Homo sapiens: one gene and its partners. The protein of the gene in region 4 purifies or fractionates together with the protein of the main gene of each other region. This does not show direct contact. Each region holds a gene or a part of one and is shown on either strand. Other genes may lie near its edges.

The links.
Region 1: the proteins of ISX (region 4) and SEPHS1 purify together in Homo sapiens (co-immunoprecipitation; one large-scale study listed by IntAct). This does not show direct contact.
Region 2: the proteins of ISX (region 4) and BASP1 purify together in Homo sapiens (affinity purification with mass spectrometry; one large-scale study listed by BioGRID and IntAct). This does not show direct contact.
Region 3: the proteins of ISX (region 4) and KGD4 purify together in Homo sapiens (co-immunoprecipitation; one large-scale study listed by IntAct). This does not show direct contact.
Region 5: the proteins of ISX (region 4) and CMC2 purify together in Homo sapiens (affinity purification with mass spectrometry; one large-scale study listed by BioGRID and IntAct). This does not show direct contact.
Region 6: the proteins of ISX (region 4) and ZYG11B purify together in Homo sapiens (co-immunoprecipitation; one large-scale study listed by IntAct). This does not show direct contact.
Region 7: the proteins of ISX (region 4) and DCK purify together in Homo sapiens (affinity purification with mass spectrometry; one large-scale study listed by BioGRID and IntAct). This does not show direct contact.

The regions. Positions count from the first base shown.
Region 1 is NC_000010.11:13,324,294-13,327,793, forward strand, and holds part of SEPHS1 (selenide, water dikinase 1), read right to left. Parts: intron 1-3,500. UniProt on the Homo sapiens protein: Synthesizes selenophosphate from selenide and ATP.
Region 2 is NC_000005.10:17,269,631-17,273,130, reverse strand, and holds part of BASP1 (brain acid soluble protein 1), read right to left. Parts: intron 1-3,500.
Region 3 is NC_000005.10:69,220,760-69,224,259, reverse strand, and holds part of KGD4 (alpha-ketoglutarate dehydrogenase component 4), read right to left. Parts: intron 1-3,500. UniProt on the Homo sapiens protein: Molecular adapter that is necessary to form a stable 2-oxoglutarate dehydrogenase enzyme complex (OGDHC). Enables the specific recruitment of E3 subunit to E2 subunit in the 2-oxoglutarate dehydrogenase complex (OGDHC).
Region 4 is NC_000022.11:35,085,523-35,087,887, reverse strand, and holds the end of ISX (intestine-specific homeobox), read right to left. Parts: coding exon 2,195-2,365; 3' UTR 501-2,194; downstream 1-500. UniProt on the Homo sapiens protein: Transcription factor that regulates gene expression in intestine. May participate in vitamin A metabolism most likely by regulating BCO1 expression in the intestine.
Region 5 is NC_000016.10:81,004,086-81,008,353, forward strand, and holds the start of CMC2 (COX assembly mitochondrial protein 2 homolog), read right to left. Parts: upstream 2,801-4,268; 5' UTR 2,649-2,800; intron 1-2,648. UniProt on the Homo sapiens protein: May be involved in cytochrome c oxidase biogenesis.
Region 6 is NC_000001.11:52,820,453-52,823,952, reverse strand, and holds part of ZYG11B (protein zyg-11 homolog B), read right to left. Parts: intron 2,515-3,500; coding exon 2,324-2,514; 3' UTR 1-2,323. UniProt on the Homo sapiens protein: Serves as substrate adapter subunit in the E3 ubiquitin ligase complex ZYG11B-CUL2-Elongin BC. Acts to target substrates bearing N-terminal degrons for proteasomal degradation with the first four residues of substrates being the key recognition elements.
Region 7 is NC_000004.12:71,017,649-71,021,148, forward strand, and holds part of DCK (deoxycytidine kinase), read left to right. Parts: intron 1-3,500. UniProt on the Homo sapiens protein: Phosphorylates the deoxyribonucleosides deoxycytidine, deoxyguanosine and deoxyadenosine. Has broad substrate specificity, and does not display selectivity based on the chirality of the substrate.

The DNA of each region.
Region 1 (3,500 bases), on a different chromosome or scaffold from region 4:
ACAGATACACTACATTTTGTTTATCCATTCATCCACTCACCTACTGAAGAAATGAATGGCTGCTTCCAAGTTCTGGCAATTATGAATAATGCTGCTATGAACATTTGTCTGCAGGCTTTTGTGTGAATGTAAGTTTTCAACTTTTTTGAGTGAATATCAAGGAGCACAATCGCTGCATCATATAATAACATATTTAGTTTCATAAGAAACTGCCAAACTGACTTTTAAAGTGGCTGTGCCAGTTTTCAGTCCTACCAGTAATAAATGAGAGTTCCTTCCTGTTTCTCTACATCCTTGCCAGCAGTTGGTATTATCAGTGTTTTTGGGTTTTTTTTGAGACAGGGTCTCGCTTTGTCACCCAGGCTGGAGTGAGGTGGTGCGATCACAGCTTACTGCAGCCTCGACCTCCTGGGCTCAAGGGATCCTCCCAACCTCAGCTTCCCAAGTAGCTGGGACTAAGGCGCAAGCCACCATGCCCAGCTAATTTTTTGTATTTTTTTGGTAGAGATGGGGTTTCACCATGTTGCCCAGGCTATTCTCAGTGTTTTGGATTTTAGCCATTCTAACAGGTATGTGGTGGCATCTCAATCACTGCTTTAATCTACAGTTCCCTATTGACGTACCACACTGAAGGTTTCCTTTTATGCTTATTTGCCATCTGCGTTATCTTCTTTCATGGTGTCTGTCAAGGTCTTTGGGCCATGTTTAAATTGAGTTGTTTTTTATTATTGAGTTTTAAGAGTCCTTTGTATATTTTGGATACCTGACCTTGAACAGGTATGTGTTTGGCAAAATTTTTCTCCCAGTCTGTGGCTTGTCTTTTCATTTCCTTAACAGTGTTTTTCACCGAGCAGAAGTTTTTTATATTAATAAAGCCAAACTTAGCAATTTTTTAATAGATAGTGCTTTTGGTGTTATAAAGTCATCACCAAACCCAAAGCCACCTCAATTTTCTCTGATGTTACCTTCTTCCAGTTTTATATTGTTGTGTTTTATTTAGGTCTACGAATCATCAATATGGTCTGGCTCTGTGTCCCCACCTAAATCTCATCTCGAATTGTAATCCCCACATGTCAAGAGAGGGACCTGGTGGGAGGTGACTGAATCATGAGGGCGGTTTCCCTCGTGCTGTTCTCGTCAGGGTGAATGAATTCTCATGAGATCTGATGGTTTTGTAAGTGGCAGTTTCCCCTGCTCTTCTCTGTCCTGCTGCCTCATGAAGAACCTAGGTGCCTGTTTCCCCTTCACCATCTGCCACGACTGTAAGTTTCCTGAGGTCTCCCCAGCCATGTGAAACTGTGAGTAAATTAAACCTCTTTCCTTTATAAATTACCCAGTCAGCTGGGCATGGTGGCTCACGCCTGCAATTCCAGCACTTTGGGAGGCCAAGGTCAGGAGTTCAAGACCAGCCTGACCAACATGGTGAAACCCCGTCTCTACTAAAAATACCAAAATTAGTGGGGTGTGGTGGCGTGCGCCCTGTAATCCCAGCTACTCCAGAGGCTGAGGCAGGAGAATCGCTTGAACCTGAGAGGCACAGGTTGCAGTGAGCCGAGATCACCCCACTGCACTCCAGCCTGGGCGACAGCGAGACTCCGTCTCAAAAAAAAAAAAAAAAAAAAAAAAAAAAAAAAAAAAAAGAGACTCAGTCTCAAAAAAAAAAAAAAAAAATAATAATAATAATAATAAATGAATAAATAAATTATCCAGTCTTGGCTATTTATAGCAGTGTGAAAACACACTAAACATTCATTTTGAGTTAATCTTCACGAAAGGTATAAGATCTGCATCCAGAATAATTTTCTTCATGTGAATGTCCACTTGTTCCAGCACCATTTGGTGAAAAGACTCTTTTCTCCAATGAATTGCCTTTACTCCTTTGTCAAAAATCAGTTGACTAGGCCAGGTGCAGTGGCTCACGCCTGTAATCCCAGTACTTTGGGAGGCCGAGACAGGCGGATCACAAGGTCAGGGGTTCAAGACTAGCCTGGCCAACATGGTGAAAACCCATCTCTACTAAAAATACAAAAATTAGCCAGGCGTGGTGGCGGGCGCCTATAATCCCAGCTACTTGGGAGGCTGTGGCAGAAGAATCACTTGAAGTCGGAAGGCGGAGGTTGCGGTGAGCCAAGATCCTGCCACTGCACTTCAGCCTGGGCGAAAGAGCAAAACTCCATCTCAAAAAAAAAAAAAAAATCAGTTGACTATAATATGGACCTACCTCTGGATTCTCTATTCTGTTCCTCTGATCTATAACTTTTTTTTTTTTTTTGAGACATGATCTCACCCTGTCACCCAGGCTGAAGCGTAGGGGTATGATCACCACTCACTGCAGTCTCAACATCCTGGGCTCAAGTAATCCTCCCACCTCAGCCTCTCGAGTAGCTTAGACTACAGGAATGCACCAGGCGCAGCTAAAGAGACGAGATGGGGTCTCACTATGTTGCCTAGGCTGGTCTCCAACTGCTGGACTCAAGTGATCCTCCTGCCTCAACCTCCCAAAGTGCTGGATTATAGGTGTGAGCCACTGTGCCTGGCTATAACTTTCTTACAAGTAACAACAAATTACAGAAAATTTTTATTTCCAAATGAATTGTAAAACAATAGGTAAAAGATAATTGTGGTACATTTCTCTGGTAGAACATTATCTAGTCATTAAAAATTATGTGTACTATGGCTCACGCCTATAATCCTAGCACCTTGGGAGGCCAAGGAGGGTAGATCACCTGAGGTCAGGAGTTCGAGACCAGCCTGGCCAACATAGTGAAACCCTGTCTCTACCAAAAATACAAAAATCCGCCGGGCATGGTGATGATGCGTGCCTGTAGTCCCAGCTACTGGGAAGGCTGAGGCAACAGAACTGCTTGAACCTGGTAGGTAGCGGTTGCAGTGAGCCGAGATCACACCAATGGACTCCAGCCTGGGCGACAGAGTTAGATTCTGTCTCAAAAAAAAAAAAAAAAAAAAAAAAAAAGTTTACTAGGATACATAATATGGGAAACATTAGTCATGTCAAAACAACAAAAGCAGGCACTCCAAATACATATACTAACCATTACATAGTGAAAACTTATACTAACCACTACTTTAAAACAACAATAGTAAATCACCAGCCAAACATGAAAAAAAGTCCTGGAAGAATACATAAAAATGCTAGCCGGAGCTGTTTTGGGTGGAGGGACTATGGACAACTTTTTTCTGTACTATTTTCCATTTTCTAAAAACTTTTCTATAATAAGCATGTAATTCTTTTATAGTAGAAAAAATGTATAAAATAAATGGGAAGAGAAGACATATTAAAAAACGCTTTCTAAACATAGTGTGCCATTGTAAACTGTGGTGAACACTTTGGAAGACAGTTTGGCACTATCTATAAAAGCTGAGCCAGTACTGATCTCTTACACGTGCCTCAGAGGGCTGGGCCAAGGAAGTCCATAGCAGTCGCCCCAGTGTGAAACAGGAGAGCAGAGAAGCCAGTGGAAAAATCAACACAGCCAAAA
Region 2 (3,500 bases), on a different chromosome or scaffold from region 4:
GCTCTGATATTTCAAAATACATTGGGTCCCTTAGGTTGAGCTAAATAAGAAACAGGAAACCTAACAGGTCTGCCTTTAGGATCTTCTCTCAATCCAGTAATAGAAACCCATACACCAACTTAGAAATTACAGACACTAAGATAAAGTGCAAACATAGGGGGTCCAGTAAGTATAACATGGGGTGCTGCTTTCTGACACCCACAGCATGAAATTCTATACAGCAATCCCCAGAGGTTTAAAGTCATGTTGGGTTACAAACCTAAAATCTGAGTTACTAAAACTGGCTTTTCTGACACATAGTTAAGGCCACATTCTATTCTTTGTTTTATGCCCAGCTGCGATTTGTTTCTGGGTCGAAAATGAACACACGTAATCAAGTTATAAGTAAGAAAATATGTCTCAATCCAGTTTGTTTTTCAAACAAAGTTAACAAACGCCCCTGGCATTTTGCTAATTTACCTCTACTGGTTATATTGAGGTATCAGAGGGACGCTCATAGGACCCACCTGAACCCTCGAAAAGCAGGATTGTCTCATTATTTCCCAAGACCATATGCGTGAAGACCTTGCCTACAACATCTATTAACTGTTTCCTAGGTATCAAGCACAATCCTACTCATAAATATATTACATAAAATATGTAATCTCAACAGCACCATGGGGTAGTATGCCATTCACATTCTCCTTTTACCCATAAGGAAATCCTACTAGCTGAGTTCGTGGAGCTGTACTATGAGCAAAGGCCAAGTCCAGCAAAATTCAGTAAGGCAGGAAGGCACCACAGAGGGGATAGAAGGAACTCCACTGAGAAGCCGGCAATGGGGCAAAGCTCTCAGCCCAGGAATGTTATGCGCCTGGGTTACAAGGATGGTGCCACCTGGGGTAGTTCAGAACTCAGGTGTTGAGGGAATAAGGAAGAAATTCAGTATTTTGAGTATCCTCTGCCTCTCAACATTTCATCTTCCTATTTGCCAGAGAAGCTTTTTACCAAGAGAAAGCAATGAGCATACAGTTTAATGATTTCATTCTTTTTCTTTTCTTTCTTTTTTTTTTTTTTTTTCTTGAAATGCAGTCTCAGTCTGTCACCTAGGCTGGAGTGCAGCAGCAGCACAATCTCGGCTCACTGCAACCTCCGCCTCCCAGGTTCAAGCAATTCTCCTGCCCAGCCTCCCGAGTAGCTGAGATTACAGGAGCCTGCCACCATGCCCAGCTAATTTTAGTATTTTTAGCACAGATGAGGTTTCACCATGTTGGCCAGGCTGGTCTTGAACTCCTGACCTCAGGTGATCTGCCCACTTCGGCCTCCCGAAATGCTGGGATTACAGGCGTGAGCCACCATGCCCAGCCGATTTCATTCATTTCTGTTACTTCTAATTTTGAAAGACATCATTTGGTATAGAAAGTTAGAAGTTGGAACTTCTAAGATTAAAATAAAGCAGTTAAAAAAATACAGCAATAGACAATCCATGCTGAAAAGTCACTTCAACTAAAAAAGTCACTAAACCAAAGCTCTACTGAAAAGGCCGAGACTGACTTTGCATTTCTCCACAACTAGGAAATTCACTAGAATTTTGTAGCACAGCAACAAAATTCAGACCAATGCTGAAGGCACTGACCTCAGTTCTATGTGTTTATGTATTAACCAAACACTAAAACTGACCTCTGTTATGACATCTCAGAAAAAAGCTAATTCTGGAGCTGTCCTTTAAAGACCGGGTGTGGTGGCTCACACCTGTAATCCCAGCACTTTGGGAGGCCGAGGTGGGTGGATCACTTGAGGTCAGGAGTTCAAGATCAACCTGGCCAACATGGCAAAACCCCGTCTCTACAAAAATTACAAAAATTAGCCAGGCGTGGTGGTGCACACCTATCATCCCAGCTACTGGGGAGGCTTGAGCCTGGGAGGCAGAGGTTGCAGTGAGCCGAGATCAGCCACTGCACTATGGCCTGGGCAGAGTGAGACCCTGCCTCAAAACAAAACAAAGCAAAACAAAAAACAAAAAGCAAACAAAAAAGCTGTCCTTCAAAGAAAACTCGATGCCACAAGGGCGAAAATGACAGGCTTACCGATTAATATTGGCATAGAAAATAACCATAAACAGTAGTAGAGAGAGGAATTTCACTGAGTTTAATCTGGTAAATATTGGACAAGAATTGAATTTCAAGGAGACTTTGCACATTGGGTCATGGCAGAGTATAAAAATCCCACCTCCACAGCACACCCACCCAGAATCCTTGGGCAAGTTATTTAATCTCATCGTCCTTCCGTTTCCTTTAAAATAAAAAAATTTTTTTAAATGTCAATTTAATGGGAATTTAATGTGAGGCCATGTGAGTACAACATTTTACATTTCCAGGGACTGCAAAAATGTTAGTTCCTTCCCCCATCATTTAGTTTGAAAATTCTTAGATAATTCTTTGCTGGTAAATTCCAACAGAATAGTTAGCACACAGGTTCCACACACACAAGTTCTAGAATCAGGAATCTGAAGCACCACAATGAAAAGAACATTTAACATCTTTTAAAAATGTTTAATGTTATCAGAAAGATGTTTGGTATATGTGTTCCATGCATGCTCCTGCTGGTTCTATTTGAAAAAGAAGTTTTTACAGTTATCTGTTGTCACCATATTGTAAAGGTAAAATCTCTACTTCTTCGCTCTGAATATTTTACTACTTAAGATTCTAAGAGGTTTTCAGTCTTTTTAAATATATTAACAGTCCATTCTGCCAAGAAATCAGTTTCTACACAGAGATAAAAACCAAAGATTAGTTAAATCCATTCCTCCCAATTAGAACGAGTATTGGAGTGATCAGAGAAAGAGAAGAGGGGGCTGTGTGTGGTGGCTCACACCTGTAATCCTAGCACTTTGGGAGGCCGAGGCGGGCAGATCATCTGAGGTCAAGAGTTGAAGACCAGCCTGACCAACATGGAGAAACCCCGTCTCTACTAAAAATACAAAATTAGCCAGATGTGGTGGTGCATGCCTGTAATCCCAGCTACTCAGGAGGCTGAGGCAGGAGAATCGCTTGAACCTGGGAAGTGGAGGTTGCGGTGAGCCGAGATCGCACAATTGCACTCCACCCTGGGCAACAAGAGCAAAACTCTTGTCTCAAAAAATAAAAATAAAGAGAAGAAATGTAATTGCATTTTTTGCTGTCCCCTCACCACCTCTTCATCACTTGGTCCAAGGAAACAAGAGAAAAGTGTTTTGATCACCAAGATGGAAAAGGAATCCCAATTCTTTTACTCATTTAATGCCTCAAATTTCACGTGTAAAGGGTAAAAACCTGGTCTACAGCTTATCTTGGCTAATAAGCTAAACACACCATGTTAATGAGAGAAGCTAACATTGTCAAATGTCATTTTGTTTTGCTACTTCCTGCAGAAGAATACTGTTTGTTTATCATATGTCAAATAGCTTAATAGAGATACTAACTTACATCTTTAAAATCCCCCACAACTATCTTGTGACTAGTTTTATTCCCTTCCACCTTATA
Region 3 (3,500 bases), on a different chromosome or scaffold from region 4:
GCCACCACACCCCGCTAATTTTTGTATTTTTAGTAGATATGGAGTTTCCCCATTTTACCCAGGCTGGTCTTGAACTCCTGACCTCAAATGATCCACCTGCTTCGGCTTCCCAAAGTGCTGGGATTACAGGCATGGGCCACCATGCCCGGCCCAAATTAAAACATTTGATAGCACTTTATTTTAGTCTTTTTCCTATACCCATAGGAATACTTTTTTTTTTTTTTTTTTAGACAGAGTCTTGCTGTGTCACTCAGACTGGAGTACAGTGCCGCAATCATGGCTCACTGCAACCTCCGCCTCAAGGGTTCAAGTGATTCTCCTGCCTCCGCCTCCCAAGTAGCTGGGATTACAGGTGCCCGCCACCACACCCGGCTAATTTTTATATTTTTAGTAGAGACAGGGTTTCACCATGTTGGCCAGGCTGGTTTCGAACGGCCTCCCAAAGTGCTGGGATTACAGGCGTGAGCCACCATGCCTGGCCTGGAATACATATTTTTGGAATACTGTTTTTGGAACAGATGTTTGAAAAGTATTAACATTTTTGTCCGTAAAATTCCAGATAGTGGTACAGAGGACCTTAAATGGACCTGTCAATATGAAATCTTCTGAATATACAATGCTAAGAATCTAATGAACAAAGTACTATTTTCAACTAATCTATAAATTGCTATGTAACGAATAAGACTGAGGTGGGTTTATCTGCAATATATTTATATATTTGTAGTACATATTATGCATTTTATGTGGGCACAGAAGCAAATAGGTATGGGATTGGCCTAAAAATTCACCACTGTAATTCTGTGGCTGTGAGAAAATGCTGGAATGTGTTCTCTCCCTCACCATAAAATCATGCTCAAGTCTTCCATGCTAAAAAACTTCTCGGCCGGGCATGGTGGCTCACACCTGTAATGCCAGCACTTTGAGAGGCCGAGGTGGGTGGATCATGAGGTCAGGAGATCGAGACCATTCTGGCTAACACGGAGAAACCCCGTCTCTACTAAAAATACAAAAAAAGTAGCCAGGCGTGGTGGCACACACCTGTAGTCCCAGGTACTCGGGAGGCTGAGGCAGGAGAATCGCTTGAACCTGGGAGGCAGAGGTTGCAGTGAGCCGAGATTGTGCCACTGCACTCCAGCCTAGGTGAAAGAGCAAGACTTTGTCTCAAAAAAAAAAAAAAAAAAAAAAGCTGCGCACCGTGACTCACGCCTGTCATCCCAGCACTTTGAGAGGCCAAGGCGGGTGGATCATGAGGTCACGAATTCAAGACCAGCCTGGCCAAGACGGTGAAACCCTGTCTCTACTAAAAAAATAAAAAAATTAGCCGGGCGTGGTGGTGGGCGCCTGTAATCCCAGCTACTCGGGAGGCTAAGGCAGAAAATTGCTTGAACCCTGGAGTGGAAGTCCGAGATCGAGCCACTGCACTCCAGCCTGAGTGACAGAGAGAGGCTCTGTCTCAAAAAAAAAAACTTCTCTATTAACTGTTTCTTCACTTTCATAGCCAAGCTTCTTAAGAGAATGTTCTATCTATCCTATCATCACTCCCCTATTTAGAAGTTTGAAAACTGGCTGAGGTCAGTGGCTCATGCCTGTAATCCCAGCACTTTGGGAAGACGGCTTGAGCCCAGGAGTTTGAGACCAGCCTGAGCAAGAAGATGAGACTCCCTCTCTACAACTTAAAAGAAGAAAAAAAAGAAGTTTGAAAAATGTTCCACAGCTTTCAGGATAAAGTTCAAACTCTTCTTTGGCACTCACAACACCCATTGTGATCTGGCCTCTCCCTACTTTGCCAGCCTTTCTCCCCTACTGTCTTATGTACCCATTGCTCCAAGTATTCTGAAGTATTTTTCCTTTCCCCAATTCATCCTATTTATCCTCATTCCATCTACAGCTTACGTCCTCTGCCATGAAATCTCCCTCCTATCCCATTCCACTTCCATGCCTATCCTTCTGACTGCTTATCCTTTACAACAGCTCAAATGTCACTCTTCTCTAAGAACCTTTCCCAAATTCCAAAGTCTGAGTTAAAAACTCTCCTTATGTTTTCAGAGGACAGATAAGTTAGCCAATGATTATAGAAGAGCACTAAGCTCCTGGACAGTCAGAGACAGAAAACTAAGCACTTCTGCAGTAGCATTCCTGTTACATGGTAAATGCCCAAGTAACAGTTGCCAAATACGTGAATAAACCATTTGTAAGTTAGGTCTAACTGTATAGGCATGTAAATATGTATTATATACTTATACAAATGTACTTTTAATAGATATGGGGTTTTGCCATGTTGGCCAGGCTGGTCTCGAACTCCTGACCTCAGGTGATCTGCCCGCCTTGGTCTCCCAAAGTGCTGGGATTACAGGCATGAGTCACCGTGCCCAGCCTTATGTTTTCTATAATAGTCTTTTATCAGATATGTCTTTTGAAAGTATTTTCTCCCAATATGTGGCTTGCCTTTTTTTGACAGTGTCTCACAGAGCAGAATTTTTTATTTTAATGAAGTCCAGCTTATCAATTAATTTTTCATGGATCATGCCTTTGGTGTTATATCTAAAAAGTCATTCCTAAACCTAAGGTTATTTTTATTTTCTCCTATGTTATATTCTAAGGGTTTTATAGTTTTGCATTTTGCATTTAGGTCTAGGATCCATTTTGAGTTAATGTTTGTGAAGAACGTGAGGTCTGTGTCTAGATGGATATCCAATTTTTTCAGCACCATGTTGAAAAGACTATCTTTTCTCCATTGTATTCCCTTTGCTCGTTTTGTCAAAGATCAGTTGACTATCTCTTTATTTTTACCTTTCCAAATCTTAGTTTTAGCTATGCCTCTTATAAATAGCATAGCACTGGATTTTCATTTGTTAGCCAGTCTGAAAATGTTTTACTTTATTATTTATTTTTTGAGACCAGGTCTTGCTCTGTTACACAGGCTGGGGTGCAGTGGAGTGATCGTGGTTCACTGCAGCGTCAAACTCCTGGGCTCAAGTGATCTTTCCACCTCAGCCTCCTAAGTAGCTAGGACTACAGGTACACACCCACACACTACCCCTCCTGCCTGGCTAATTTTTTTTTTTTTTTTTAGTATTTATTGATCATTCTTGGGTGTTTCTCGGAGAGGGGGATGTGGCAGGGTCATAGGATAATAGTGGAGAGAAGGTCAGCAGATAAACACGTGAACAAAAAGGTCTCTGGTTTTCCTAGGCAGAGGTCCCTGCGGCCTTCCGCAGTGTTTACGTCCCTGGGTACTTGAGATTAGGGAGTGGTGATGACTCTTAACGAGCATGCTGCCTTCAAGCATCTGTTTAACAAAGCACATCTTGCACCGCCCTTAATCCATTTAACCCTGAGTGGACACAGCACGTTTCAGAGAGCACGGGGTTGGGGGTAAGGTTATAGATTAACAGCATCCCAAGGCAGAAGAATTTTTCTTAGTACAGAACAAAATGGAGTCTCCTGTGTCTACTTCTTTCTACACAGACACAGTAACAATCTGATCTCTCTTTCTTTTC
Region 4 (2,365 bases):
CAGGGCATGAGAAATGGCTGTAGGAGGTCTAGAATGAATGAGACCTGCTGCCTGGCCCAGGGCTCCCATGGCCCTAGAAGTGTGTGGGATAGTTGTCAGCTTTTCCTCTTGCTCATGAGAAAGAGAGGAAGCCAGCGAGGATTCACAACTGTGGTGAGAGGCTACAGCGGAGGATGTGGAGTGAACCCCCAATAGGGAGTTGAATGGGGTGATACATCTCTAGGGCAGAGGGGTCATGCCCAAGGCCAGGCTAGATAAGACACTAGTAGGAGACTGAGAAAGCTGGGAAGCAAACATCCCCTCTGGGAGGCTGGAGGTGGCATTTGCATAAACACTTCTCCAACCCTGCCCCTCAGCCTAGCAAAGACCCCTGTGGGAAGAAGGGGAACAGAGGGCAACGATCTCAAGTGACTGCCTTTAAACCTGAAGTGCCTGAGGCATCAGTAACCTAGAAGTTACCAGAATACATTTCCTGCAAACAACATAGAAAGTAAATCCAGTTATAGCAAAATGATAGAAATTTTATTTTGCACATTTGAGTGTAGGGTCCTAAAATGGGTACCTGCTACCCAAGTGATGAGCTACTGCCTTTGTTTGTTAACTGCTCTTTCCTCCCTCAGCCTCTAGCCTTCTCCTTTCATCCAGCGGTGCTAGAGACCTGGTGTTGATATCCACATTCATAGGCTCTGAGTGATCTGGCATTTTTAAGATGGCAAAGCACTTTTGCATCCTGTGGGCTGTTGTCTGTAGTTCTGGCATATTGCATGCCTGAAGGCAGAGCTAGCACTGCTACCTCCAATACAGATGAGAAAACTGAGACCCAGAGAGATTAATGGTAAGGTTACACAGCAAATTAGAAGGAGTGTAGGACTAAGACCTAGGCTTCCCAACTCCCGGTCCAACTCCTGGGTGGGTCAGGGGTGCAGGTAGATTGCAGAGGATCTGGGATTTGGGGAAGATTCCTGGAATTTAGGCTTGTGCAAGAGGTCATTCCAGGCTTCCCAGCTTAGGGGAGCAGGCCCTGTCCTCCACCTGCAAGGACAAGAATCAGAGACATCTGTGCAGAAGGGATGCTCAGCGGATGACCTCCCTGAGAACAGGAACTACTCATCCTGGGCTGGCATCCAAAGCAGCCACTTTTGCAGTGGAATCTTGGAATAACAATATCACTCCACACTGGGCCTTGCCCTCACTTTGCAAAATACTCTCATGTCCTCTCAGAGCCTCCTGAATGCTCTTTGAGGCAGGCCTGGCTACCTTCATTTTATGGATAGGAAAACTGAGGCTCAGACAGAACATGTGGTTTGCCCAGCGTCTTTGCATGGAAATAGGGAGTTGAATGAAAGCTCAGGCTTTCGAGGACAGAGTGAGGCTAGTCTTCCAGCTGGTCCCTTTTCATATATCCTGGAAAGATAAACTGAATGAAAGGAGCTTTCCGTCCTACTTTTCATTTGTGCCAGAAATGACAACATCCCTTTCCCATCCAGCAAGATAACTAAAGACACTAAATCCTGTTTAGAATTTAAAAAACTTTCTACATTTTTCTCTCACTCTGAGATGCTCACAGTCATAAAGAATGTGTTAGACTTGGGCCAACAGCAAGGTTGTTGAGCAAGTGTTCTGCTTTCAGAGGTGGGCCAGCACCACCTTTTGACAAACGTGGACAGAACCCAAATTGTTTATCTCTGTATCCCGTTCTGTTTATGGAGTCCTCAGTAGGTACTCATGTGTCACGGATGAATGCATGCATGAACAAACAACCTCTCCTTGGCCTCCTCTGTGCCTCAGTGCCCACCATGGAAGCGTCTTCAGAAATCATCTTATCCAGCTGGCTCCTCTTACAGATGAGGTCCAGAGAGGGTGAGTGACCGGCTGGAGGTCACACAGCAAGTTAGAGGAAACACAGGTGCTGGAGGATTACCTCCCTATTTCAGAGCTCGGCCTGAGATCTCATCCAGCCTGTCTTCTGAACCAGGAGAGCAGCTTTAGCCAGGAGAGAAGAGAGCTGTCCTTTATTGTTTAGTTTGCTTTTGAGTCTGGTGCAGCCTTCCAACTGGCATGTTCAGGGTAGCTTCCTGGGCTGTGGGCCATTTTTGGATTGTGAAATCGATTTCCCCAGAGGCCCAGGGCACATCTGCTACCTGCCTTCACCTGGAGAGGAAAGTGGCTCATTTGGGGAGAGCATGTCCAATCTCTATGTTGAAGTAGCACAGATGCTGCCCCATTTGGGGTGTGGAGGTGGAAGGATGCATAGCACAGGGATGCAAGTTTGATGGATGGGAAGACCTGGGACAGGCTGTGTTTCCCATGGGTGCGCTGGGAGGAGGGTGATCCAGGCAGGGAACCAGGCAGAGGCCAGCTGATC
Region 5 (4,268 bases), on a different chromosome or scaffold from region 4:
GGTGGTGGGGGCCTGTAATCCAGCTACTTGGGAGGCTGAGGCAGGGGAATCGCTTCAGCCCTGGAGGCAGAGGTTGCAGTGAGCTGAGATGGCACCACCTGCACTCTAGCCTGGTCGAAAGAGTGAGACTCCATCTCAAAAAATAATAATTATGAACATCAGCAGCATGGTGGAAACGAAAGTGAAAGGAACATAAGACCTCGTTCTTGGATGTTTCCAGTGAAATAGAGAGGGATAAATTCCATTCAAACTGTTATTATTTGAATAGAATAATATTTAATTCCAGTGCAGACCCCAAGCCAGGCTGCTCCTGGGAGCGACCCCAGGGACTGCCTGGGGAGGAAGGCTTAACTACTCTGACTTCCATCAGTTTGTCAGTCTCATCTTTACAATGGCATTTAAGAAAACATCAAAAAGGTAAACTTGTCACGATTCCACCACCTCCCTCCTCAATCCAGCCCCATCCACTGTGTATGCACACAATGATACCAAAACAGTCCACTGAAATTCCTTAAAATTTTCAGCTGTCAAATGTGTTTTGATAGCTAGCTAAGGGGCCCATAAGGGCAATTTTAACTTTTCCTGGGGAGTAAGCTGGGAGGGTAGAAGCGGTAGGGTACTCTTAGTGAAGATATAAAAATTATAGCTTTCTTTTACTCACTCCTTCAATCTTTGTCTACTGACTCTGAGGTACAATTTTCCTCAAGAGTAGTCTAAGACAGATTTCAACCACCAGGTGGCACAATTTTAGAAAATAAACCAAGAGCCAGCGCTGTATTAACTCTAGTATAAAGAAAACGGGTAAGCATTCTAATAACTCACTTCAGCAAATCTATAATCACAAGGAAGAACCCTGTATTTTAATGCCAGTTGGCTTTTCTTTAGAAAGATTTTCCTATTGTGCGGCTGCACAGGAAATTTACACTACAGTTGTAATTTCTAATGCTACTGCAAAATAAGCAAAAAACAAGGCCAGAAAAGTCTGTTGTGCAGAGTCTGAAGAAACTGTTCTCCAGAAAAAAAAACTGTAAACACTCCGCTTTCTAAAATATATCTTTTTAGGCTAGGCGCGGTGGCTCACGCCTGTAATCCCACCACTTCGGGAGGCCGAGGCAGGCAGATCACTTGAGGTCAGGACAAGCCTGGCCAACATGGTGAATCCCCGTCTCTACTAAAAATACAAAAATTAGCCAGGCGTGGCCTGTAACCCTAGCTACTCAGGAGGTTGAGGCACGAGAATCACTAGAACTCGGGAGGTGGAGGTTGCAGTGAGCCGAGATCGCGCCACTGCACTCCAGCCTGGGCGACAAAACAAGACGCCGTCTCAAAATAAAATTTAAATATATATATATATAAATAAATAACATAAAACATTTTTAAGGCCTACATTTCGGCCCTGGTATTAAAGAATTATTTTTCAACTTTTCAAGCTATGAGCCATACTGCAGCAGAGGTCGCAGACACGGTCGGGGACGGCCTCCCCTGCCCACTTCCACTTATCACAGGACCAGTTCTAAACCGATACCACTAAGAAAGCGACTGGCGCTGGCACTGTAGACCCCATGCCAGGCTGCTTCTGGGAGGGACCCGGGGGTGCTGCCTAGGGAGAAGGGCTTAACTACTCTGACTTCCACCGAAGAGTTTCTCAGAGAATGCGCCCTCGCAGCTTTCCCTGAATAAACATTACCAGGACTTACAAGGTGCCTAGCACTCTGCCAGAATCATGTGAATTTCAGAGGAAAATACTCGTTCACACATCTCAAGGAACGCACAGGCTCGTGAGGGAGCATTCTTGCCAATGCACATGGTAAATGCCCAATCGATGTTCGCGGAATGTCAGAAACTGACAACTAGTTCAGGCCTCAACGCAGTAGGAAAAGGATGAAAAAGAAACTCATTTTAAATCAACTAAACAAGTGCAAAAGCCATACATATAAAGGAGAGGAGATACGAATGGCATCACAACATAATTCCTTTGCCATCGAAAACTTCCATGCCTTTGAGGTTTTAAATGAAGACTTCCAAAACTGATTTACTTAAGACTCTACGTAAAACGCCTGATCTTTAAACGCAAGAAAAGCAAGATGAATGTATTACTTTCCTGGAAAAAAAAAGCATTAAAGGAGAAAAAAGAGTAAAGTGTACTGATGGGGCTCTTGGTGGGTTCTCACATCACAGGGCACTGCAGCTGAGACTTGCTTGAACGGCCCCCGTTTTCTACCCGCAAATTCTCAATTGCTAGATAAACAACAATAACAACACTTTATTGGGCGCTCATCGTGTCAAACCCTGTGTTGAGGGCTCCATTCCTCAAGGTCCATTTTACCGGCGAGGAAGCCCCGGCTCCGGGAGGGGAGGAGCGCGCCCAAGGTCACCAGCCAGTTGAGTGAGTGGCGGGCGGATCCCAACCCCGAGCGACGCCCACGGCCTGTCTCGGCCACCAGCGTGTTCCAGCGAGCGCCCAGCCACCTCGCTCGCAGCCTCCCCAGCGCAGCAGCCCGGCTGTGGGCCTGCGGCAGCCGGGTCTTCCTGGTCCCCACCTCCTGGGGCCGACGGGCGGCAGGAAGGGGCTCGGCGGGACGCGCCATCAGGGACCTGAGGAGGAACAACGGAACGCGTTCGGAACGGCCTGGACTCCCGAGACTCACCCGACTCGTGGCCACACCGGGAGAACTGAAGCGGCAGTAGCCGGCGGAGACGCCCGACCCGAAGGCCGGCTGCTAGGGAGCAGACAGCTGAACCGCTTGCCAGACGCCGAAACCCAGTGACGCCCTCCACCGCTCCACCGTGCTCCCGGCTCCTCGCCCCCGCCGCCCGCGGGCCCCAAGGCGCATGCGCCGCCTGTCCTGGAGGGGCCCATTTCCGTCCGTCGTGGGGGGAGGCACAGTGAGTCCACTGGGGCACGGCAGCGTCTAAGCCACAAGCCGAGCACATAAGCCAGGTCCTAACGGAGCCTATGTGTAAGTCCACTACTGGTGCAAGGTTGCACACTTCTAAGAAGAGCGGCGTGGGGGGCTCGGCGACCTTCGCTTCAGTCGCTCCCCCGTGCAGTCCCCTGTGCCCAAGACACAGCCTGATGCTTGTGCTCCGGTGGGCGGAGCTTGGAGGCGGCGGGAACTGCAATTGGTGGCTTTGAAGGCGCGGCGAGCGGGAACAGCTCTTGAGGAGTGAGACTGCAGGAGATGTGGGCCGGTAAGAGAGCCCCGGGCGGCACTGGATCGGGCCCCGGAGGGTGTGGGGCCTTGAGGAAGCCAGATCCCAGGCCTCGGGGGTGGCTTTTTCGCAATTGTCGCACGTTGTGAGGCGCAGGATTGGCGCTGGGTCTCGGGCTCGGGGCGAGGAACTACGGTTCGGGCCGAGGTGAGGGGGCGGTGGCGCTGTGCCGGCTGTGACGTCACCTCGCCCGCGGTGGGGCGGGTGGAGCCTTTCGTAGGCTCGCGACTGCGTCAGGGGAGGGCCGTGTGGTCATGTGACCAGGGGCTCCGCTCTACGATCCTGGGGTTGCTTCCTTTCCCAGAGTTGGGGTTTTGCTTTTCTGTCACCTCGGCTTCCGTCGTTTTTTGTCCCTGTACCCTCTTGCGTTGCTCCTCGCATTGCCTGTTGGAGCGCAGCAGAGGTGTGTGGCTACGGGAACGTTACTTAAAATGGATCTTTTTGATCATGCGTTCCACAGATCTTGAGCATCTACTGTATGTCAGACACTAAAACGCTAGGAAGTATAAAGAAAGTTTTAAAATGGGGCCAGGCGCGGTAGTTTACGCCTGTAATCCCAACACTTTGGGAGACCGACGTGGGCGGATCACCTTAGGTCAGGAGTTCGAGACCAGCCTGGCCAACATGGTGAAACCCCGTCTCTACTAAAAATACAAAAATTAACCGGACGTGGTATCGGGTGCCTGTAATCCCAGCTATTTGGGAGGCTGAGGCAGGAGAAGCGCATGAACCCGGGAGGCGGAGGTTGCAGTGACCCGAGATCGCGCCACTGCACTGCACCCTGGGCGACAAAGCGAGACTGTGTCTCCGAAACAACAAAAAAAGGAAAGTTTAAAAATGGTCACGGGGTAAACGTTTACTAAAGGGATTTCCGTCTTAATTGGTGAGACTGAGGGCGCTCTACCAAATTTCTTTAGACTGGCGTTCTGCAAACTTTACCCGGAATAAATCATCTGACGTACTTTTTAAAAGATGCTAAATCTCAAGCCCTCCGTGCGCCCTCCTCACAGTTTAATTTGATAGGGCCCAGGAATCTTCATTTTAACGGGTAGCCT
Region 6 (3,500 bases), on a different chromosome or scaffold from region 4:
CACCACGTTGGCCAGGGTGGTCTCGAACTCCTGATCTCAAGTGATCTGCCCGCCTCGGCCTCCCAGAATGCTGGGATTACAGGCAAGAGCCACTACGCCCACCCTTGCTTTTACATATTTTGGATGCTTCAACTATTAAGAAGTTATTCTGAGTAAAGAAGGGATTTACTGTTTTCTGTACACTTTTAGCCATTTCTGAAAATAATTTGTAAAGACAAAAACCTAGCATTAGCCTGTAAAGAAATATGCACTTTTGTCTTATAAAACAGAAACTTGAAGCCAAACTTCTTAAATAGGCTTTCCCTTAACTACACTAGATAAAAGACCTGGAAACGGTCAACATATCTAGCAATTTCCAAACTACCACAGGCCATCTCGTTTTCTGAACTTTGTCTTAGACATTAACATTCGAAAAAGGAAAAAAAAAAAAAAAACTTTTAAAAGAATTCTCTATTTTGTCTGAAATAAACTTAGTCTGTGAAAATTTATCTTACGCCTATAAAAATTCCTTAAGCCAATTAAGTCAGCATTAACCCAGCATTTAATATGGTTTTCAGTGATTCTAAATATCTATTTAGATATTTATTTGAGTCAGCGTCTCGCTCTGTTTCCCAGGTGCCACCACACCCAGCTAATTTAAAAAAAAAAAATTTTTTTTTTTGGTAGAGACCGAGTCTCACTATGTTGCCCAGGCTAGTCTTGAACTTCTGGGCTCAAGCAATCCTCCTGCTTCAGCTTCCCAAAGTGCTGGGATTACAAGCATGAGCCACTGCATCCAGACCTAAATGCCTACTTTCTTTTAACTCAGTTTTCATTCACATGAAGGAACTCCAAAAAAAATTCAAGTCTGATTATTGTGATAATGGTATAAAATGTTTGTCAAAAAATGTCATCAGTGAACTAACAAACCAGCTCCTTTCTAAATTAAAATGCTTCTGAATAATCACTATAATTTTAATATTCCATTTTAAATCTCTGTTGAAAACACTGGCCATCTATGAAAAAAAATGTAGTTATCTGGGATTGTAGATTGACCTTATTCACAAAATAAAATTTTAAATGAAAATTAAGTTTCTTGGTGACTTGCTATCTCTCAAGTGCTATTACTGATATAAGTGATTCTTTACTATACTGTATCAGATACCTTAAGGAAAGGTAATTGCCTAAAAAATAATCTGTCAAAAATATGTGCTGTTATGCACTGCGAGTAGAATCATTACATTTAATCATTTAAAGAGTTTAATTATTTTCTTTCATTTTTGGCAGTGAGATGGGGACACTTTCTCTAACATGAACACATTAAGAAGATACACATATTTTGAACAAGAGATTTTAACTTTTTATGGCAAAATTTACTGGTGTCAATTGTATTTTAATTGAGAGGTTAACACCATGTTGCTGTCTCTATTCCACTGAACAAAAATGACTTTGAAATAGAGGAAAAGAATAGCCAGTTTTAACTGGCGATAATTTTTTAAAATCACATTTTCACAACACTACAACATATGGAGATGTAGACAGTTAGTCTTTAACACAGAGTGCTGTAGTATTTTATACTGTGGTGCTTGGGGAAATATTCCTAGTGAATAACCGGCAGTCTGTGCAGGAACCAGCAGTCCACACTTCTAGGTATAAATATGGAGGACAAGCTTCTGCTCACCGCCTCAAGAGAGGTGGACTCCCGAAGGGTAGCCTGTCTCATTTTAAAACCTATACCATGAAACCAATTCCCAGTTCCTACACTCTGTTCTACCTTCATAATTTTTCTTTCTCATATATCTTTCCGCCAGCCATCCAGGCTCCTGCCAGTGATTAGCTTCCACAAGATGATCCACATTTCCCTTCTTTCACACTAAGAAGGACATCTTATAAAATATACACAGATAGAGAAGAAAGGCATTTTATACAGAAGCAGTATAAAATTTACAACTGAAGCAGTGTCAGAAATCAGGTCAACAGCTTATGTGAAGCTGCAAATTGATTGGAAGGGACTCTGAGATCAGAAAAGTCTGGCCTAAGGGTTCGTGCAAACTTTACCATAAAACTGTAGAATCTCAAGCACAAGTAAGTTCAAACACTGAAAGATGTGGAAAATTTCCTAAAAGGCAATGATAAAGGAAGAGACCCTTCTTGACTCATAAGTTTAAAATCACAAGACAAATTAGAGACTGTTCACATGGGCAGTACTACACATTATCAATCCCAAACTGATTTTATGACTCTTGTCATAGAAACCCCCAAAACATCAGGGAGGGTAAGATATTCCAAATGGACCAATCACAAAAAGGATTCCTGTGATTCAACTATCCAATACTTATGGCTATCAATTTAGTCTGGCTTGGGGCTGTTTTTTACAGGGAGGTGGCCTCCCATGGCGCACAATGTGTTTTTCTAAGCTATCCAGAATGGCCACAGCAATCTGTTGGACATGGGGATCAGTATGTTCATGATCTTTGATGTTGTATAAATGCTGCAATCCTCCTTCTTCAATCAGCATGCTGCAATACCTTGAAGCTGAAAAAGAAAAAAAAACACACACAAAACAGGAGAAATAGCTTTTCTTAAAACACTTGAAAATTATTCCACAAAAAAATGACTTCTAGGAGCCATTTTTTTTTAGCTGTTTTGTTATTGATCACTAACATGCTACAGCTTGATAAATAACCTCTATACTGATGTTACGTCTACAGTGCAAGGCCTACACATTCAATCAATAAATAGCTAGCTTGATTTTTCTAACCTCAAGACATGTACAACCTGTATTAAAAAAATAAAAACAATCATAACTACCTTATCTTTGACCCAAAATCACAGGTAAGTGTTGTTATATTTTTATGCATTTCCTATGCTTTTTTTTTTTTTTTAGACAGAGTCTTGCCCTGTTGCCCAGGCCAGAGTACAGTGGCGCAATCTCGACTCACTGCAGCCTCCGCCTCCTGGGTTCAAGCGATTCTTGTGCCTCAGCCTGGAAATACAGGCACATGCCACCACCCCTGGCTAATTTTTTTATTTTTAGTAGAGATGGGGTTTTACCATGTTGCCTAGGCTGGTCTCAAACTCCTGCCCTCAAGCAATCCTCCCGCCTCAGCCTCCCAAAGTACTAGAATTACAGGCATGAGCCATAATGCCAGGCTGCATTTACTATGCTTTTTAAAAACTTAATGGCACTCATACTGCACATACAATTTTTAAATTTTTGAAATATTTTATTAGCCTTTTTTTTTTTTTTTTTTTTTTTAAAGACAGTCTCATTCTGTTGCCCAGGCTGGGGTGATCATGGCTCATGCCCAGTGGTGTGATCATGGCTCACTGCAGCTTGCTGTGTTGCCCAGGCTGGAGTCCAATGGCACAATTTTGGCTCACTGCAACCTCTGCCTCCCGGGTTCAAGCAATTCTCCTTCCTCAGTCTCCTGGGTAGCTGGGACTATAGGCACCAGCCACCACACCTGGCTAAATTTTTGTATTTTTGGTAGAGGTGGGGTTTTACCACGCTGGCCAGT
Region 7 (3,500 bases), on a different chromosome or scaffold from region 4:
AACCATCATTCTCAGCAAACTGTCGCAGGGAAAAAAAACAAAACACTGCATGTTCTCACTCATAGGTGGGAATTGAACAATGAGAACTCTTGGACACAGGAATGTGAACATCACACACTGGGGCCTGTTGTGGGGTGGGGGGAGGGGGGAGGGATAGCATTAGGAGAAATACCTAATGTAAATGGCGAGTTAATGGGTGCAGTACACCAACATGGCACATGTATACATATGTAACAAACCTGCACGTTGTGCACATGTACCCAAGAACTTAAAGTATAAAAAAAAAATTTATATATCAGGGCAATTAAAATCGTTGTTAAAAATTTACTGTAAATGATTTTTAACAGCAGCCTAATTTATTGTATGCATGTACTATTATTTACTTAATATAAATGCCTAATAATAGTGGAATGATAACCTATTCGCTTAGCCTTGTGATAAATACCTTTGTGGTTAAATTTGTATTCTAGATTATTTCTTTTTTTTTTTTTTTTTTGAGACGGAGTCTCGCTCTGTCTCCCAGGCTGGAGTGCAGTGGCGCCATCTCAACTTGCTGCAAGCTCCGCCTCCCAGGTTCACATCATTCTTGTGCCTCAGCCTCCCGAGTAGCTGAGACTACAGGCGCCTGCCACCATGCCCCGCTATTTTTTTTGGTATTTTTAGTAGAGACAGGGTTTCACCGTGTTAGCCAGGATGGTCTCGATCTCCTGACCTTGTGATCCACCCGCCTTGGCCTCCCAAAGTGCTAGGATCACAGGCGTGAGCCACTGCGCCCGGCCTAGATTATTTCTTTAAAGTAAATTTTCAACAGTGGAATTAATTGGGCCAAAAGGTACAGGTTTTTTTTTTCCCACAAATGTAGCTAAACTGCTTTCTATCTAACCATGTTCTACCAATTTGTATTTAATGTAGTTTCACTCTGACACATTCATATTTTTTATCTGGATAGTTTGCAGAGGGGAGAACTTGATAAAATTAACATTCAGTTTGGTAAAGATGATGCACAGTATTTTTTAGATTTTTTTTTTTTTTTTTTTTTTGAGACAAGAGTCTTGCTCTGTTACCCAGGCTGGAGTGCAGTGGCACAATCTTGGCTCACTGCAGCCTCCACCTCCCAGGCATAAGCAATTCTCCCACCTCAACCTCCGGAGTAGCTGGGATTACAGGTGCACGCCACCATACCTGGCTAATTTTTGTATTTTTTGTAGAGACAGGGTTTCGCCATGTTGCCCAGGCTGGTCTGGAACTCCTGAGCTTAAGTGATCCGCCTGCCTCGGACTCCCAAAGTGCTGGGATTACAGGCCTGAGCTGCCTCACCTGGCTGGATAAATTTTTAATATTCTTAACATTTATAATTGCATACAAAAAACCCTAGCAATTTGTCTCAAATTTCATGCATAGGATCAAAAGAAAATGTTTTATATGACTCATAAGTTATCCTGAGGAACCAGATAATGATACCCTGGCTTACTGTTAATTTTCTAATTTGTTACACTATTAAACTAAGAGACAATAACATCTTCATAGCTGAAAATTCTATTTCAGATTTTTGATTCAGTTTGAATTTACATATTTGTATTTTTAGAACTAGTTTATTATTTTTTTGTTAGGTGATGAATCAAGATTGGTTCTCTAAGTTATTTTAATATAGTAAACTTTGAAATTGCTTTGGGCAAGAGAGATTATATTTATTGAGAAATTAAAATAAAAGGAGGTATGTGGTCTTTTTTAGTTAATTTTTTTGTTGTGGCAAAAATATAAAATTTATCATCTGAACCATTTTTAAGTATACAGCTCAGTAGTATTATAAGCATATTTAGGTCATTATGAACAGATCTCCAGAACTTTAGCCTCCTGAAAAGATCCAGAGACCCCTGGAGCTTCTCCTACTATACTTTGAAGAACCTCTATCTTAGAGAATATATTACTTCATCTGGAAAAGACAGACTCACAGAGAACTCTAGAAATATAGTCTTTTAAAACATATCATCTAAAAGATTAATAATTCTTTTTATCATCTTATCCGGTCTGTGTTCATATTTCCCCATTGTCTAATAATGTTTTCGTAATTTTTTGAAATTAGGAGCCAAACCAGGTTCACACACGTTACATTTGGTGGTTGATATACCTTTTATTTTTTTTTAAATTTATTTTTCTGAGATGAAGTCTTGCTCTGTCACCCAGGCTGAAGTACAGTGCATGATCTCAGCTCACGGCAACTTCTGCCTCCCCAGTTCAAGTGATTCTCCTGTCTCAGCCTCCCGAGTAGCTAGGATTACAGGCGCGTGCCACCACGCCTGGCTAATTTTTTATATTTTTGGTAGAGACAGGGTTTCACCATGTTGGCCAAGCTGGTCTTGAACTCCTGATCTCAGGTGATCTGCCTGCCTCGGCCTCCCAAAGTGTTGGGATTACAGGCGTGAACCACTGGGCCTGCCCTTGATATGCCTTTTAAATTTTAATCTATTGATTGTCTCTTTGTTTATAATTTATTTGTTGAAGAAACAGGGTCATTTGTTCTACATAATTTTCCTCATTCTGGTTTTGGCTGAGTGTATCTCTGGTAAAATTTAACATGTTTTTCAGTTCTCTGTATTTCCAGTAAATTTATAGGTAGAGACAGGCTTGATTAGATTTACTTTCAATTCTTTTTTGGCAAGATTCCTAGTTGGTGATGTGTATTTCTTTACATCAAGAAGATGTGTTTTGTGATGTTAAAATCAAACAGTTTAGCTGTTGTCAGATTGATTCATCCGTTGTAAAATTCCCAATTAACTTTTCTCTAATGATAGCATCTATTGCTAATTGTTGCCTCATTGCAGTATATTAGTAGGTGTTGTAAAAGGTGATATTCCTTCTCCAGCCTTCTGAATTTATTGGCTGGGATTCTTCAGGAAAGAAGACCTCTTCCTCATATACCACTTTATTACCCTGAAAGTATTTATACAGGAAAGGCCAAAATAAAATGGGACTTTTTTTTTCTTTTTACCTACATATTCCCAGAATAATTAATTTGTGCCTTAGGAGCCTCAAAACATGACTAGAGTTTTGTTTGTTTGTTTAGAATTATAAACTCATGGATTTTTGCCTCCCATTCATTTTCGATGTTCAAATTATTCTTTCTTTGACCAGTGGCAGCTTATTTATGTTGGCTCCTTTGTCCTTGGCACAATCCCAGTGGTCTGTAGTAGTTTCCTAAAATATACAAGATGAAGCTCATCTTGTATATTTTCTTCCCCAGATTTAGAATCAGAATTCTAATTCCTTTCAGTGGGAAATGGTATTTAGAGATTATAATCTGGGTGATATTTTTGTATATTCCTACAATGTTGTCATTGTTTATAGGCCTTTTGATGGACAGAACTAGGAAAACTTTATAGAAAGAGAAAAATAATTCATGTGTTCCAGATGCTATTTCTTTTTTTTTTTTTTTTTTTTGAGACGGAGTCTCGCTCTGTCGCCCAGGCTGGACTGCGGACTGCAGTGGCGCAATCTCGGCT